Linked DNA regions of Homo sapiens. The protein of the gene in region 1 interacts with the protein of each later gene in a biochemical or structural test. Each region holds a gene or a part of one and is shown in the gene's direction. Other genes may lie near its edges.

Region 1 (7,621 bases):
GGGTCTCCCCAGGGTGCATACCCCAGGGAAGCAAGCATGGGTGCAGTCCCTGGGTTCACCCTCAGGCGAGCCTTCTACATCCCACTCCCTGTATTTAGGCATCGCTGGGACAGTTGTCCCTCTCCCAGCCAGGGAAGGAAAGGAGAAGTGGAGAGAACAGGCGTGTGATGTACAGTGCTTCCTGAGGGCAGCAGCTCAGCATGGGGTGAAAGGGTACCAGGACGCCCCAGACTTGACTTTCAGAGTGAGCCGGAGGGCCCTGCCTCATTGCTTCACTCACAAACGACTTTATCCCAGCAGTGCAGGCCGGCAGAGGGGTGCCCCACTTTTCGGCTCAGACTGAGCTGCCCCGAAGTTGGCTCCCAGTCTCTTGACATCAGCTTTTTGCCTCAACTCAAAATGCATTTTCAGGCAACAAGACACCCCGATTGTGCCATTGTTGAGTAGCTTCAAGTATGGCATGAATTAAAAAATAAAATAGTACCACCTACTGCCGCTCAGATAGGACAGTTTGAAACCAGAAAGTACTCGGAGGTGGCTTCCCTCACATTTGCTGATGTCAGGGCAGCGAGAAGGAGCCTGGCCGCCTGCTGTGGGGAGTGGCCGTCCTCAGTTGGATTCCCGAAATCACCACTTGAATGTCCCATAGGGTTCCTCTGAGTCACAAATGTTTTCTTCTGTTTTTGGTTTCTTTTACTAGTGCTGTATAGCTGCATGACTTTTGGATATGTGTTTTTACTGGTTTCATAAGAATTTTTTAAAAAAGAGATGGGGTCTTGCTCTGTTGCCCAGACTGGTCTCAAACTCCTGGGCTTACGCCATCCTCCCACGTCAACTCCCAAAGTACTGGGATAACAGGTGTGAGCCACTGTGCCCAGCCCACAAGAATAACTTTAAAATAAAGATGGATTTTCTCTTATTTTTCCCTAGACTTTGTTTTTTTCTTTGAATTAACAATGTCAGAGGACCCTAGGCTTGCATTGTTTTACACATGGATGCTTAACAAGTGGAAGTTAAAAATAAATTCTGTGTAAAAATAAAACCATCACGAGTGACTCTGAATTGCTGGAGAATTTTAAGAATTAGGTTGGTTTTGATGACTTTAAAAAGCCAACAATTACCTAAAGACTTGCCCATTCAAGTCGCGGTTATTTTGAGACACAGTTTTGAGGCCAGTCTCTGGTGTCTTCTGCAGGAGGGTGTGAAGACAGAGAATGACCACATCAACCTGAAGGTGGCCGGGCAGGACGGCTCCGTGGTGCAGTTCAAGATCAAGAGGCACACGCCGCTGAGCAAGCTGATGAAGGCCTACTGCGAGAGGCAGGTGCGGCACCTTGCTCCCCCGCAGAGCCTCCCCGTGTGCGCACTGGTCCTGTGCGTTCCAGGCATCCCCAGAGCACGAGCGTCTCGGGGCTGGACCCAGATGCAGCTGCCCGAGGTGCCCTCTTCGTGGATGGGCAGGCGGGGGCTTGTGCTGTAAAATTAGTCCAGGCTGGGCTTGTCCCCCATGGCCTTTTATAAGGTGGAGGGACCTAGAGGCTCGGAGAAGTGTGGTGGGTTTTTCTTCCTGACAGGGCGGCTGCCCGGGGTGCTGTGTTCTCCATGGGGTACTAACATCTGTGAAGTCTGTGATGCTGAAGGCTCTTGGGGGCCCTGCTCAGGTCTGGCCATTCTGGGGCTGCAGGTGGCGTGTGCCCCACGCCGCTGTCACCCTGTCCTCGCGTATGAGCTGGCCTGACCCTGGAGAGACACTGCCCTCATGTGCGGTGTGGTTTTCCATTTTGTTAGGAAAGGCAAGAAAGCGCGTGATTCTTTCCCCTTCTTCCCCAGTTTCAGGATAATGAGCTGCCCCACTGGCAGTGCCCAGCTGGGTGGATGCCTTCTGGCTGCTGTTTGTGACGTGGTGTGTGTGTGTCTGTTGTTCTTGGTAACGCTGTGGCGGACTCACCCTGGGCCAGGGGGTCCCTCTCTAGGCCACTTTTATGGGCTTTGCCCACCAGCTGCTGCCTGGTGTGTTGGGGGCCCGGCCCTGCAGCCAGGCGCCCTTCCCCAGGGAGCCCTGCTTGCCTGAGTGGGACCTAGAGGCTGCTTTTCTTCAGCCGCTTTGAAAATACAGCAACTCGTTGCCCTTTTATTTTACTCTTTTGCCTGTGGATTTTCAGTTAGATTTCCTCCTCTTTCCCTCCCACTTTGGATACCCTGCTCATAGGGGCAGTCACTGGCGACTGCCTTGCATTCTTTATTGGCAAGCAGCCCCTGACTTCCTTTCTTTGTGTTTGCTGAGGGCAGATCTTATTTTCACCTGCGAAAGGTGAGACTGAGCTTCCAGACACGCAGGTCCCGGTCTTCCCAGCAGAGTGAGTGGCCTGGCGCCGTGTAGGCCCCGTGATCCAGCCTCTGCCTGATGCTGGGCCCTGGCCCTTGCTGGAGTTTGTACTGCCTGGGCTCGTGGCCACTGTGTGTGTGACTTCCCGGGTGCCCATGTTCTCCTCTGCGCTGCGGGATGGCAGGCGTGTGGGGCCGTGTACATGTGGGGGGGGCTCTGCCCTTCCCCCTGCTCTCCCGGAGCTCCCCTCCTGCCCCACCTGCACTGCTGCTTGTGAGGCTGGCTGCTCAGCCGTGGTCCAGGGCCTCCTGTTCAAATCCTTCTAGAAACTTGGGTTCTCTCTTGGGTGTTTCCTGGATTAGTCCTCCTCCCTTTTGTGTTTTGTGGTGGAGCACATCCTCCAGGGTCTTGTCAGAACGGGCACAGAAGGGCAGCGTCTTTGAGACACTGCATGGCTGAACGTGACTTTTGCTTTTATAAACCTTCACACTTCAGTATGTGGCTGCACGTAATATTCTCGGTTGAAACTTTTTTTTCTTTTTTATTTCAGAGGTCAGCCATGAGAATAGCTCCCAATGTTAAAAGTGAAAAGTTCACCAGGCATGGTGGCTTATGCCTGTAATCCCAGCACTTTGGGAGGCTGATGTGGGAGGATCACTTGAGGTCAGGAATTCAAGACTTGAGGTCAGGAGTTCAGTGCCAAGCCTGGGCAACACAGGGAGACCCTGTCTCTACGAAACATTAAAAAAATTAGCCAGGTGTGGTGGTGCAAGCCTATAGTCCCAGCTACTCAGGAGGCTGAGGTGGGAGGATTGTTTGAGCCCAGGAGGTGGAGGCTGCAGGGAGCTGAGGTCATATCACTGCTCCAGCCTGGGTGACAGAGCAAGACCCTGTCTCAAAAAAAAAAAAAAAAAAAAAAAGGTGAGAAGTTCAGTGGATTCTGATTCTCTGTGCTTTGTTTGTAACTTGGTTTTTCCCTGGAAGTATCTGGGACCATATTCTGGCATTCAGTGTTTCCTTATGTGCCTCAGAGGTGGGTGATTTTCTCACTCATGCTGCTGGGCACTTTATGGGTCTGGACGTTTATTTTTATTCAGGAAATATGCCTTATGTTAGTTCTCTGATAATTTGTATCCTTCTCCAGACTCTGTTCCCTCTTTTTGGAGTTCCTGTTCCTCCTGCTGCTCATTGTCCTAGATATTTTAAATTTGATAATTTTTCTCCCATTTTGCTTTGGGCTTTATTGTTGCATTTGGGCTTCTTTCCGGGAGGTCATTTCAACTTTATCTTTCCACTTCCTGTGGACATTCTCATCTCTGTCATGATTTTTAATTTCCAAAAGTTCTTTTTTCTTTCTGTTCTTTGAGTGTTCTTTTTTTCTCAGTAGCAACTTATTTTTTTTGAGACAGGGTCTCACTCTGTCCCCCAAGCTGGAGCGCAGTGGTGTGATCATGGTTCACTGCAGCCTTGAGCCCTGGGGCTCAAGTGATCCTCCCACCTCAGCCTCCCGAGTAGGTGGGACTCCAGGTACACGCCACCACGCCTGGCTCATTTTTTTATTTTGTGGAGATGGGGTCTCCTTATGTGGTCCAGGCTGGTCTGGAATTCCTGGGCTTAAGTGATCCTTCTGCCTCGGTCTCCCAAAGTGCTGGGATTACAGGTGTGAGCCACCGCACCCATCCTCAGTAGCAATTGATTGTTTTCTGAAGGTAGTAGTATTTTTTACTTCCCATAGAATTTGAATCGTGAGTGTAGGTGTGTGTGGTGTGTATGTCCGTGTCTTTGTGCATGTGTGTGTATGTGTGGGTGTGTGCCTGTGTGTGTATGTGTGGGTGTGTGCCTGTGTGTATATGTGGGTGTGTGCATGTGTGTGTATGTGGGTGTGTGCATGTGTGCATTCGTGTGTGTGTATGTGTGGGTGTGTGCGTGTGTGTATGTGGGTGTGTGCGTGTGTGCATATGTGGGTGTGTGCATGTGTGGGTGTGTGCATGGGTGTGTGCATGGGTGTGCATGTGTGGGTGTGTGCATGTGTGTGGGTGTGGGCATGTGTGGGTGTGGGCATGTGTGTGCCTGTGTTGGGAGTGTTCTCCTGCCTCCTTCCTGTCCGTTCTCCTCTGCGCTCCTCCCCTCCTCTCTAGGCTGCTGCACAGTGAGCCTTTCCCTGACTGCTCTCACGCAGGCTGACTTCTGTGCAAGCATGGAGCACCGAGAAGCTGCTGAAAAGCTGTGTACATGGATGGCTGTGCTGCCAGGGCTGTGCATCCACATGGGGTGATCTGTCTGGATTGCAGGTTCTGGAGGCGCCCAGATGCTACAGTTTGAGAGTTGAGTCCTCCAGGCTCCGGCCAGCCTCCTGGAGGCGCATCTGGAGGGGAGAGGGGACTTGGCGCACAGTGTTGAGGGCACGCGCTTTCGTGGGCCTGTTTCCGCCCTGCGCCTGGAGCTCCGCACCCACCTTCTCAGAAAGCACATCTCATGTGTGCTGCCGTGGGAGGCACAGGGTTGTGGGGGTCCTGCCTGAGGGGTCTGCATGTGAACTTCCAGGCAGCTGTTCAGAATCAGCTGCCTGCCACAGCTCTGCCTCACAGGTTGGGGCGTGCCCAGTCCCTCCGCCCTAGGATCCTGGTCCAGTGTCCATCAGACCACCAGTGTCCACGCCTCAGTAGCCTCTGGCTCAGCCCAGCATTGACATATCTGCCCATCCCCACTCCCGTTTTCTTTGTCCTTCCTGTTTGTGCCTTTTTCATTTACTTCATTTCAGTGGGGTTTCAGGAGGGAGCAGAGATGCACGTTTTAACCCCGTCTGTCCTGTTTCAGTTAAATCAAAACTGCTCGTTGAGGAAATGTTTCTGCCCCTGACCACATTTCTCCATTCCCTCAGGACGCAGAAAGGCTGCGTGCTCTCCTTCCTGCTGCCCTCCTCAAGGCCAAAGTCATGGTGGTAACTGCTCCCCGGCCTCATGCAGCCTTCTTATCTGTCCCTCATTGGCACACAACCTGTTCCTTGCTGAGAACTTTGTAAAGGGGGGAAGTAGTGGTGCCAGCATTGTAGAAGTTCTACTCGGCTTCTGGAAAGATGGGAGGGATGACCCAGGACAGGTCAGGGCACCAGGACAGAGAAGATTCAGTGTTTGAATTGACCATTCCACACGGCCACTGCACTGAGAAACTTTGATTGAAAAGCTAGCCACTGGAAGGTTAGTATTCACCTGGCGGCTCATTTCCCCTCCCCTGGCACATCACCAATGCTAGTCCAGCTTTTCTCCTGCTCCTCAGAGACCTCCTGGCTGACAGCTGTCTGAGCTAGCGTCACTGTGACGTGTTACGCTTCCTCACCTGGGTTTCGTATGTAAAGAAAGGGTGGATTTTAGAGGTACATGAGTTTGGATGTTAGTCTAGGACGTCTCTTGTGTTCTGGTGTTTGAATGTAAGTCGGCTTTCCTTCTGCCATGGACCACTTACCTATCTGCTTTGAAACTGAACTGCCACTGGTTTGGCTTTAAGAAGTTCCCAGTATGCAATGGTGTAACAAAACCTGGGTTGAAAATGAGCCGTTTTAGCTCATCAGAGAGAAGATGGTAGAAGAGTGGGTTCTGAAAGCAGTGGTGTCAGGCACCGCGTGAAAGAGATTGTAGGCCCACTGGTGAGTTTTTAATACTGAGCTGGATCATAAATCTGCATATCAGAATGCTGATACTTGGATTAAAATATTTGGTTTTTGAATTAAGCCGTATCTGGAAATGTTTAATGGCCACTGCTTTTCCTCTCCAGGGCTTGTCAGTGAGACTAATGGCCACTGCTTTTCCTTTCCAGGGCTTGCCAGTGAGACTAATGGCCACTGCTTTTCCTTTCCAGGGCTTGTCAATGAGGCAGATCAGATTCAGGTTCGACGGGCAGCCAATCAATGAAACTGACACTCCAGCACAGGTACGGAGCTGGCTTCGCGTGGTTCCAGGGCGACTTCCGATTTGTGCGGGGTAACTGCCATTTGGGATACGCTTATTTGAGAATTGTAGGTGGGAGCTCATACAGAATGCCTTAATGATATTGATTATTAGATTATTTATTTTTCACATTTTAAATTTAAATTTTCAAATGAGAAAACTGCTTTGCAGACATCATTCTTGCTGTTTGGAGATGGAGCCAAGTGCTGGGCCCGTCCTCACTGTAAGGGAAGCGGGGGTGCAAGGACCACTCAGCGGCCCCTTCCCACTCATTGTCTGGACGCTTGCTGTTGTAGCCCGTGTGCAGCTTAGGGGCCAGCTGGATTCTTGTGCCCTTTAAGCATCTTGCACAAGTGACGTGGGTGGGCAGAATGTGCCATAACCCCTGATTATCAGTCTGCACAGCTCGTTTCTCTCAGGCACATGCAGACATGAATGAGATTTCATCTATCACGTTGCAGGGCATCATACTGTCATGGAAAGAGCTTTGGACCTGGAAACAGACTTTTTTTTTTGAGACGGAGTCTCGCTTTGTTGCCCAGGCTAGAATGCAGTGGCGCAGTCTCAGCTCACTGTGCAAGCTCTGCCTCCTGAGTTCACGCCATTCTCCTGCCTCAGCCTCCCAAGTAGCTGGGACTATAGGTGCCCACCACCACTCCCGGCTAATTTTTTTGTATTTTTAGTAGAGACGGGGTTTCACCATGTTAGCCAGGATGGTCTCGATCTCCTGACCTTGTGATCTGCCCACCTCAGCCCCCCAAAGTGCTGGGATTAAAGGCATGAGCCAACGCGCCCGGCCGAAACAGAGTTTTTTTTTAAACTTGGTTCAAGTTGCAGCTCTTGTCATTTGTCAGCTGATGGCCCCGTGACCAAGCATCACTTCATCTTGTGGAGTCTCAGTTTTGTCTGTCCATAAATGGAACCAATACCTGCTTTTTCTCCCTTTCAATGTTGTGAGAATCCACTGGAATGTTTTATGTGGAAATATTTTTGCAAAACATTTAAGATTTTAAATATTTACTATTCAGTATTTAATAAATATTGAAAACATCTTTGCAACAAGTATCCATTTGTACCTACTTGAGGAAACCTACACACCGCTGAGGCAGTGGCAGCTCTGGGAGTGTTCACCAGGGAGAAGCTGCTGAGAGCAGCTGAGCAGGGAGGGCCTCGTGGAGTCTCTGGGGCTTGACTGGGGGTCAGGGGGCTGGCTGTGGACAGGTGGACCGAGAGGCAGAGGGAGCCCTGCCTGGGGGCTCTCCCTCCAGCCCATAGTGTCGGTGGCAGGGTGAGGGTGGCCGACAGCCCTGATGGGACTCCTTTCCATCTGGGAGCATGACTACTTCCAGCC
Region 2 (7,633 bases), on another chromosome or scaffold:
TTTTCTCCATTTCTTCCAAAGAGCTCACGAAGCTGACCACATAATTAGTTACTCTCACTTGCAGACTTTATACAGTTGTGAACTATGCAATGGATGATGGGCATACCAGTCTTTCCTTCTGACTTTGATAGTTTGTAGAAATTTTCTTATTACCCTTGATTGCAGGTAACTCACTAATTCAGCCCAGTATTTCCATGTTTAGACCAAACTCCTCAAATTCCTGTCAGGCAGTAGTTAGATTCTGCTGGCCCATATATGCAGACTAATTTGGTAAACATTATTTGGCTGCAGTTTGAGGAAAGCAGAATTTGGTTTGGAGTGCATTTGGAAAAACTTGATCTCTCCACAAGTGAGTAAAATTAATTTTCAGATATTTAAAGTGATTTGATTAAGGATTTCTGGTTTCTTCTGGCAAAATTGAGATTAGAATCCCAATCTTCTTATTCAGTACAGTTCAATAAATATTTGAGTGCTATTTTTCTACTTAAGAGAGAAAGACATTTTCTCTGATTTTAAGTTTTGAGACAGGTATGTATGTAAACAATCATAATACTTAGATGTATGTATAAAGCTTGAAGAGAGTACTAAAACTGGAGTAAGTCCATTTCAAGGGGTGGGGAGAGCGGTAAGGAAATGCTTCATGGAAGACGGCTTGGAGGAATGGGTAAGAATTTGTTAAGCAGATAAAGCATGGGTGGGAAATGTGGAGAAAGGGGGTGAATTTTGAGACAGAAGGAACTGTGCAAAGGCAGAGAGATGGAAAAAGAGAGACATATATCTACAAGAATATGGAGTTAAGATCGGGTGAGTCTTGAACCTTGCTGGTATTCTGAAGGGTAAGAAACAGTAGAAAAAGAGAGAGGAAAGATAATGGAAATAAAAAGATGGTCAGTTGAAGAAAGTTCTTATGTAGGCAGAGGAAATGAGATCCAAATCTCACATGGAAGAATTAGCCTTGGATAGGAGAAAGGATAGCCTTTCCACTGAAACATGTGAGAGGGAAGAAGTGAGATTGTACTAATGCAATTAGGTTTGTTAGCTTCATGGGGAAAATTGATAGTTATATAGGAATAATATATATATATATTCTTTTACATATATATTATATATTCTTATATATAACATATATTCTTTTATATATATAATATATATTATATATTCTTTTATATATATATTATATATATATATATATATTTTTTTTTTTTTTCCTGGAGAATTACAAGAAGTTTGAGAAGTCCACCGAGGTCCAGGAAGGGTCAGGGGACAGGATGGGAACTAGGGCTGGTATGAAGTGATACTGAAGAATCTGGATTTTGAAGGGCTTTATTTGTCATGCTAAGGATTTTTAACTTGAAGGTGATGGAGGATCATTGAAAGATTTAAGCAATTTAATGTCTAATCAGTTTCTGCCATACTCTAACTGTGGCTTAAGGTTGAGTTTGGGGTGGTGTGGTGACAGTGGTGGAAGCAGAAGCATAGAAATCAGAAAATTGTTATGTGTAAATTAGGTGAGAGCCGCTTCTCACCCGAATCTACCATTATTCTTCTAAATACAACTGCGTAACACCTGTCCCTTCAACCTCACTCCTCTTCTGCTCTGGGCTTTGATTTGTTGCCCTTCTGCCATTATGGTAGTGACTATTCTGATTTTTAAAATCTCTTCTAGTCACTCTCCGCCCAGCATTTTCCAAAGCTCATATGTTTATAGATGGCCCTACCTCATGTTTCATAAGGAAGTCAAGGTCATTCAGTGAACAAGCCCTCAATTTGCCCCCTGAAGCTAACATACCTAAACTGCAGTCTTCTTCCTTCTCACCTGTTTCAGTGGAAAGGCCATCCCTTCTCCTATCCAAGGCTAAATTTCCATCTGAGCTTTAAATCTCATTTCCTCTGGCTCCATAGGTATTTTTCTCCATTGCGCATCCCTTTATTTTCTTTATCTTTCCACTCCTTTTTTCTACTGACTCTTTTCCTTCAGCATCCCAACAGGGTTGAAGCCCTCACCCTTTTATTTCATCTGGGGTTTCTCAACTGCATTATTAACATTTTCGGCCAAAGAATTCTTTGTTGTGGAGAGGCCAGCATCCCTAGCCTCTATCCTAGTGGATAGATGCCAGTAGCCACGCCCCTCCTCCCTGAGTTGTAACAAACAGCAATGTCTCCGGATGTTGCTAAATCATCCCAGCTTCAGAACCACTGATTTAACCCAATATATCCAAAATATTATTTCAACATATAATAAATATTAAAAAGTACTGAGATTTTTCAGTCTTTTTTTGTATTGTACCTTTGAAATTCGATGTGTATTTTTCACTTAAAGCACTTCTCAATTATTTTTATTTATTTATTTTTTTAGGGAGACGGAAAAGGAAAAGGGGAGGGGAGAGGGAGAAGAGGAGGGAGTCTAGCCACATTTTAAGTGCTCAGCAGCCACATATGGCTGGTGTCTACCTAATTGAAGAACACAGGTCAAAAGCTTCAGAAAAAAGGTTAGAGCTGGAAATACAGGTTTGAGAAGTCATGAGATAGTAACAGTTAAAATCAAGGGAGAAGATAAGATAGTCCGGGCAAAATTCTATGTTTAAGAGTGAGAAAATAGGAGGATTGAGGAAAATCCTAGTCGAATGCTCTTTTAGTTTTCCCACACAATCTGCTATCCTTGATCATTATTGTAATTTTAAAATCATTTGTGTGTGTGTGTGTGTGTGTGTTTTGTTTGTTTGTTTGTTTGTTTGTTTTGAGACGGAATCTCACTCTGTCGCCCAGGCTGGAGTGCAGTGGCACAATCTCGCACTCACTACAACCTCTGCCTCCCGGGTCCTAGCAATTCTCCTGTGTCAGCCTCCCGAGTAGCTGGGGTTACAGGCGCCCGCCACTACGCCCGGCTAATTTTTTGTATTTTTAGTAGAGACAGCGTTTCACCGTGTTAGCCAGGATGGTCTCCATCTCCTGACCTCATGATCCGCCCGCCTTGGCCTCCAAAAGTGCTGGGATTACAGGCGTGAGCCACCGCGCCCAGCCTTTTTTTTTTTTTTCTTGGAGACGGAGTCTCCCTGTCACCCGGGCTGGGGTGCAATGGCTTGATCATGGCTCACTGCAACCTCGGCCACCCTGGCTCAAGCGATTCTCCTGCCTCAGCCTGCCGAGTAGCTGGGATTACAGGCGTCCGCCACCACGCCCAGCTAGTTTTTGTATTTTTAGTGGAGAAGGAGTTTCACCATGTTGGCCAGGCTGGTCTTGAACTCCTGATCTCAGGTAGTCCACCCGCCTAGGCCTCCCAAAGTGCTGGGATTACAGGCGTGAGCCACCGTGCCCGGCCAAAATCATTTGCTTACTGAATGATACGGAAAATATGAGTGAACAAAAAAAGTATTGAAAAAGATGAGTTGATGGCAAAGGGAGGGAATTAATGTTTAGTGAACACTTAATTGGCAAGTAATGTTCAGAGCATTATATAAATTGTCTCATTTAATCTAACAAGAACCTTTTGAGGTAAATACGTTATCCCAATTTATAGAGGAGGAAACTAAGATTTATAAGGATCTCATCAATCAGAGAACTCTTAAGTGGCACCACTGGACTTTGAAAGGAAGTCTGCCTGATGGACTCTGAAGCTCATCCTCTCTCTATCCTCCTAATGCATATAATGACGCATTTGTTATCTACTGACTTTTATAAAATAAACAAGGAGGCTTATGCGATTGTACAGCCCGAGTTCGCAGGAGATATGTGACCACTTTTGATCTGATTCCGGAAGCAAATTCACTTTAACAGTGAGGTGCCGTGATCTTTATGTCATTAGCGCATATGATATGGGTATCATTTGTTGTGAAAGACACTAACCCATGATGTTTTTGTTTACGTATATCTGTAAATGTATCAATTCTGTAGTTGGTTAATTTTTAGTTACGAAAAAATGAACCAAGATGTAGTCAAGATTTGGCTTAAATGTTGAACGCATAATCACCAAAGAAAATTAAATAATGAGCTTTGTGACACCTTTCAGTTCGCCAACAGACTGATAAAACCAGTACAAAGGGGGAGGGCCGGGACCGAGGGGGCGGGACGGTGAGAAACGGGAATCGAGCAAGCGCAGAAACAAACAGATGTTAATGGAGGCGTGAAGGCTACTGCGCTCTCACTTTCCGAACTGTCGTAAAGAGCCCTAGTGTCGTGCTCTCCTCGGTAGGGGAGGAATTGGTTAGGCGGCGGCGGCGGCGAAGCGGCGGCGGCGGCTGTAGGGGAGCAGCGGCAGTGGCGGCGACGGCGAGGAGGTGTTCGGTTTGCGCAGCGTAGAAACGCCCGCAGCTTCAGAGAAGGAGTTCTTGTGGGACCAAATTAGGCATTCTGAACCCACGCCGGCTTAGCTGGGCCGAGTCCAGGCGCTGCCGCACGTACAGTTTTGGTGGCGGTGACAGACACTGTTCTTGACTCTAGGGGCCTATTAGGCCGACGTCTGAGGCGCAGATCGCTGGCTCTCGACGCATTACTCTTTACGCCTTACATTTCTGTCTTCCTTCCTGGGTCAGTGATTCCCGGACCCTGGAAGAGAAGAGGGTGGCTAATGATTAAGGTGAGGGGAACGGGGGGGGAGGGGATCCATTGGAGGCCGCGCGTGCGCGCAACGGGGGAGGGGCCGGCCTGGAGGGGAGAAAGAGGAAGGGCTGCGGCCGCGGAAGGCTGGGGTCGGTGACCGGCCGGTTATCTCTGGCTCGGTGGTGACTTAGGGTCTGGGTCTCCGCAGACGATTTGTGTTTGGGCAAGGCATTCGTCTACCGACACACCCACAGCCTACAGTGAGGGAGTGTGGGTGAGGGGATTTCTCTCCCACTTCCGACTCTCCCTAGAGTCTCAGGATGGGGGCTGAGGACCGAGGCGTGGGAGTGCGATTTGACAATGGAGTGATGAAGGTAACCCGGACCCGGGGAGTTGGAGGGCGCTAAGTCAGCCCTGACGGCTAGGGAGTCGCCTGCTGCTGCTGTGATCAAGGAAACGTAGTCCGCGGAACAGCTGAAATACAGACGCGTCAGATTTTGTATGGAGTTGGCTTGTTGGTCATTTAAAAAGAAACTGATGTTTTTACTATTGTCCTTCGATAATTTATCAGAGTCAGTGTCAGTGCTATAGTGGGAATATCTGTTCAGTGCAGCAGAAATAGATTTGTTACAACAGTTCTTAAATAGGTTATAGTAGATAGATCTTTACAGATGGGTATTTCTCAACCTAAGTTTTGATTATTCAAAAAATACCAGAAAGTATGAGGTATTCATTTAATTTGTTCGTGTGTGTGTTGTGGGGTGACTCCATTGTGTTGTTGTAAGCTTTCCTGTTTCTTGATTTATGTGCGGCATTAATTTAGAATTCTCTTGAATGGTAAGATGCCAGCTGACATAGACTACGTTTTGTAGGATTTCCTGTAGCTTTTGAATGTGACTTAATCTAAACTTTATTTCATTTGGTATTTTATCTATAATTTTCTTGTTTTAGGGGCCTCTTGAACTAAAAAGAACAAACTGGGAAAAACATAAGCTAAGGTTCCATTTCCTTTCCCATTTTTGTTGTGTGTGTGTGTGATGGTTGTAAATGCTTGAATGTGATTTTGAGATTACCATACACAACTTCTGTAACGCTGGACTTAGCTTTATTACAGTAAAGATACATCTTTTGATAGTTTATTACTATATGTATTTTTGTAAAAATCTTCATGTCAGTATAAGCCACATTGTTTCACCCTAGTCTGGTTATATTTGTGAGGTGAAACAGATGGATAAGAAGGAAGCCCTTTTACTTTTACAATCATTTTAAATTGATTGTTTCTAAAGCCTTGATTTATCTTATTTTGGACACTTTCTTGCCATTTAACCTTGGACAAATGACTTTATCATCTCTCTCCTGCTCATTTGTTTGTGACCAAAGATTCACAACAGTATTCTAAGAATTGGTGAGGGTGTTTATAAATCTAAATAATATTTTAGGAAAAAGTAGGAAGAATGAGTCTCCTTGTTTATCACGGGTGCTATATCATGTGCAGATCCTTCTGTCACTTCTTAACTTTTGTTTGGTGTCTGTTGGCCACTTGTTTGCTAGTTATTTCACCAGACATAGAACTGGTTTTTAAAGAAAGGTATAAACAAAGTGACTTCATTTTGGTGAAAAATGCATTACAGCAGAGGTTACATCTTAACGAATTTCACTTTGGTACTCCATTTCTACAGATTATTGAGAGAGAGCTGTTGTGATGTTTAAGAGAAAAGCACCTTGCTTGTATAAAGCTAAGGTGCAGTCATTTAGCAGATACTCCTAGTTATTTTACTTTAAAATAAAAAATATAAAGGAAACTAATTGAATCAAACCATTTAGATTTTTAGATGTTTCCTTCTTTTTTTTTTTGTTATAGTTTAAAGAGAGGTTTCTGTATCATGCTTTACTTGAGGCATACTTATGTGCCCTTCTTTTGACTTTTTCTCCCCTTTTGGGCCAAGACTTCAGTAGGAAATAAAAGAGACCATCTGAAAAATGATAGCAGTTAAAATATGTTATAACTTGACATTACCGTTCTATGGGTAACGTTATCTTATGAAATAATATAGGGCTAAGGACAGGAGATCTAGATTTTAGATCTATCTTTGCTTGCTATACATTAGATCTCCGAGTTTATTGTTAACCCTCCTTGGGCTTCAGGTCTCTCTGTTTAAATGAGAATTGTAGAATAGATAACTTTCGTTTTCTTTAGGTCCCAAATTTAATGGTTTGTATATCTAGTTAGGTTTTTGGTATTCATTGTTGTGTTTGTCGTAATTGAATCCCCAGAAAGAAATGCTGTACAAAAAGCATCAATTCCCTCATGAAATGTGTATGTGTAAAACCTGTCATGAAGCTGTGGGCCAGGCGTGGTGGCTCACCCCTGTAATCCCAGCACTTTGGGAGGCCAAGGCGGGCGAATCACTTGAGGTGACCAGTCTGGCCAAAATGGTGAAACCCCATCTCTACTGAAAATACAAAAAATTAGCCGAGCTTAGTGGTGTGCGCCTGTAGTCCCAGCTGCCTGGGAAGCTGAGGCAGGAGAATGGCTTGAACCTCGGAGGCGGAGGTTGCAGTAAGCGGAGATCGTGCCACTCACTGCACTCCAGCTTGGGCGACAGAGCGAGACTGTTTCTCAAAACAAACAAACAAAAAAACTATGATTGTTGTTCCACATATTATTGCTATTGTTGTCCCATTGTAGATATTAATTACTGAAGCTTTAATAGCTTTCAGATGGTACTAAAAATGAAATTTTTTATTACTCCTGGTAACATTTTAAAAATCATCTGGAATAATTTGTTTTTCTTTCAGAAACCTGTAATTATTGTTCAGTAAAAGTCCACAATTACATTTGAATGTCTTATACCTCTGTTTGTTTCTTTCCTACATCCTACAGATTCTTGGTAACAGCTGGCCCAGGTTTCTACAGGTACTCAATTTATATCATTACATGAGGAGTGAATTACAAATATTTAAAGACAAATACTTAGCTGAGGCTGGGTGCGCTTGCTCATACCTGTAATCCCAGCACTTTGGGAAGCCGAGGCGGGTAGATCATGAGGTCGGGTTCGAGAGCAGCCAGGCCAACATGGTGAAACCCCGTCTGTAC

The links. The genes of interacting proteins can lie anywhere in the genome.
Region 2: the proteins of SUMO3 (region 1) and RNF111 form a complex in vitro, tested with the Homo sapiens proteins (one study listed by BioGRID).

Annotation. Positions count from the first base shown.
Region 1 is NC_000021.9:44,807,679-44,815,299, reverse strand, and holds part of SUMO3 (small ubiquitin-related modifier 3 isoform 1 precursor), read left to right. Parts: intron 1-1,195; coding exon 1,196-1,324; coding exon of another isoform or gene 1,325-1,438; intron 1,439-6,181; coding exon 6,182-6,253; intron 6,254-7,621. UniProt on the Homo sapiens protein: Ubiquitin-like protein which can be covalently attached to target lysines either as a monomer or as a lysine-linked polymer. Does not seem to be involved in protein degradation and may function as an antagonist of ubiquitin in the degradation process.
Region 2 is NC_000015.10:58,983,496-58,991,128, forward strand, and holds the start of RNF111 (E3 ubiquitin-protein ligase Arkadia), read left to right. Parts: upstream 1-4,167; 5' UTR 4,168-4,573; intron 4,574-4,642; exon of another isoform or gene 4,643-4,910; intron 4,911-7,420; exon of another isoform or gene 7,421-7,453; intron 7,454-7,633. UniProt on the Homo sapiens protein: E3 ubiquitin-protein ligase. Required for mesoderm patterning during embryonic development. Acts as an enhancer of the transcriptional responses of the SMAD2/SMAD3 effectors, which are activated downstream of BMP.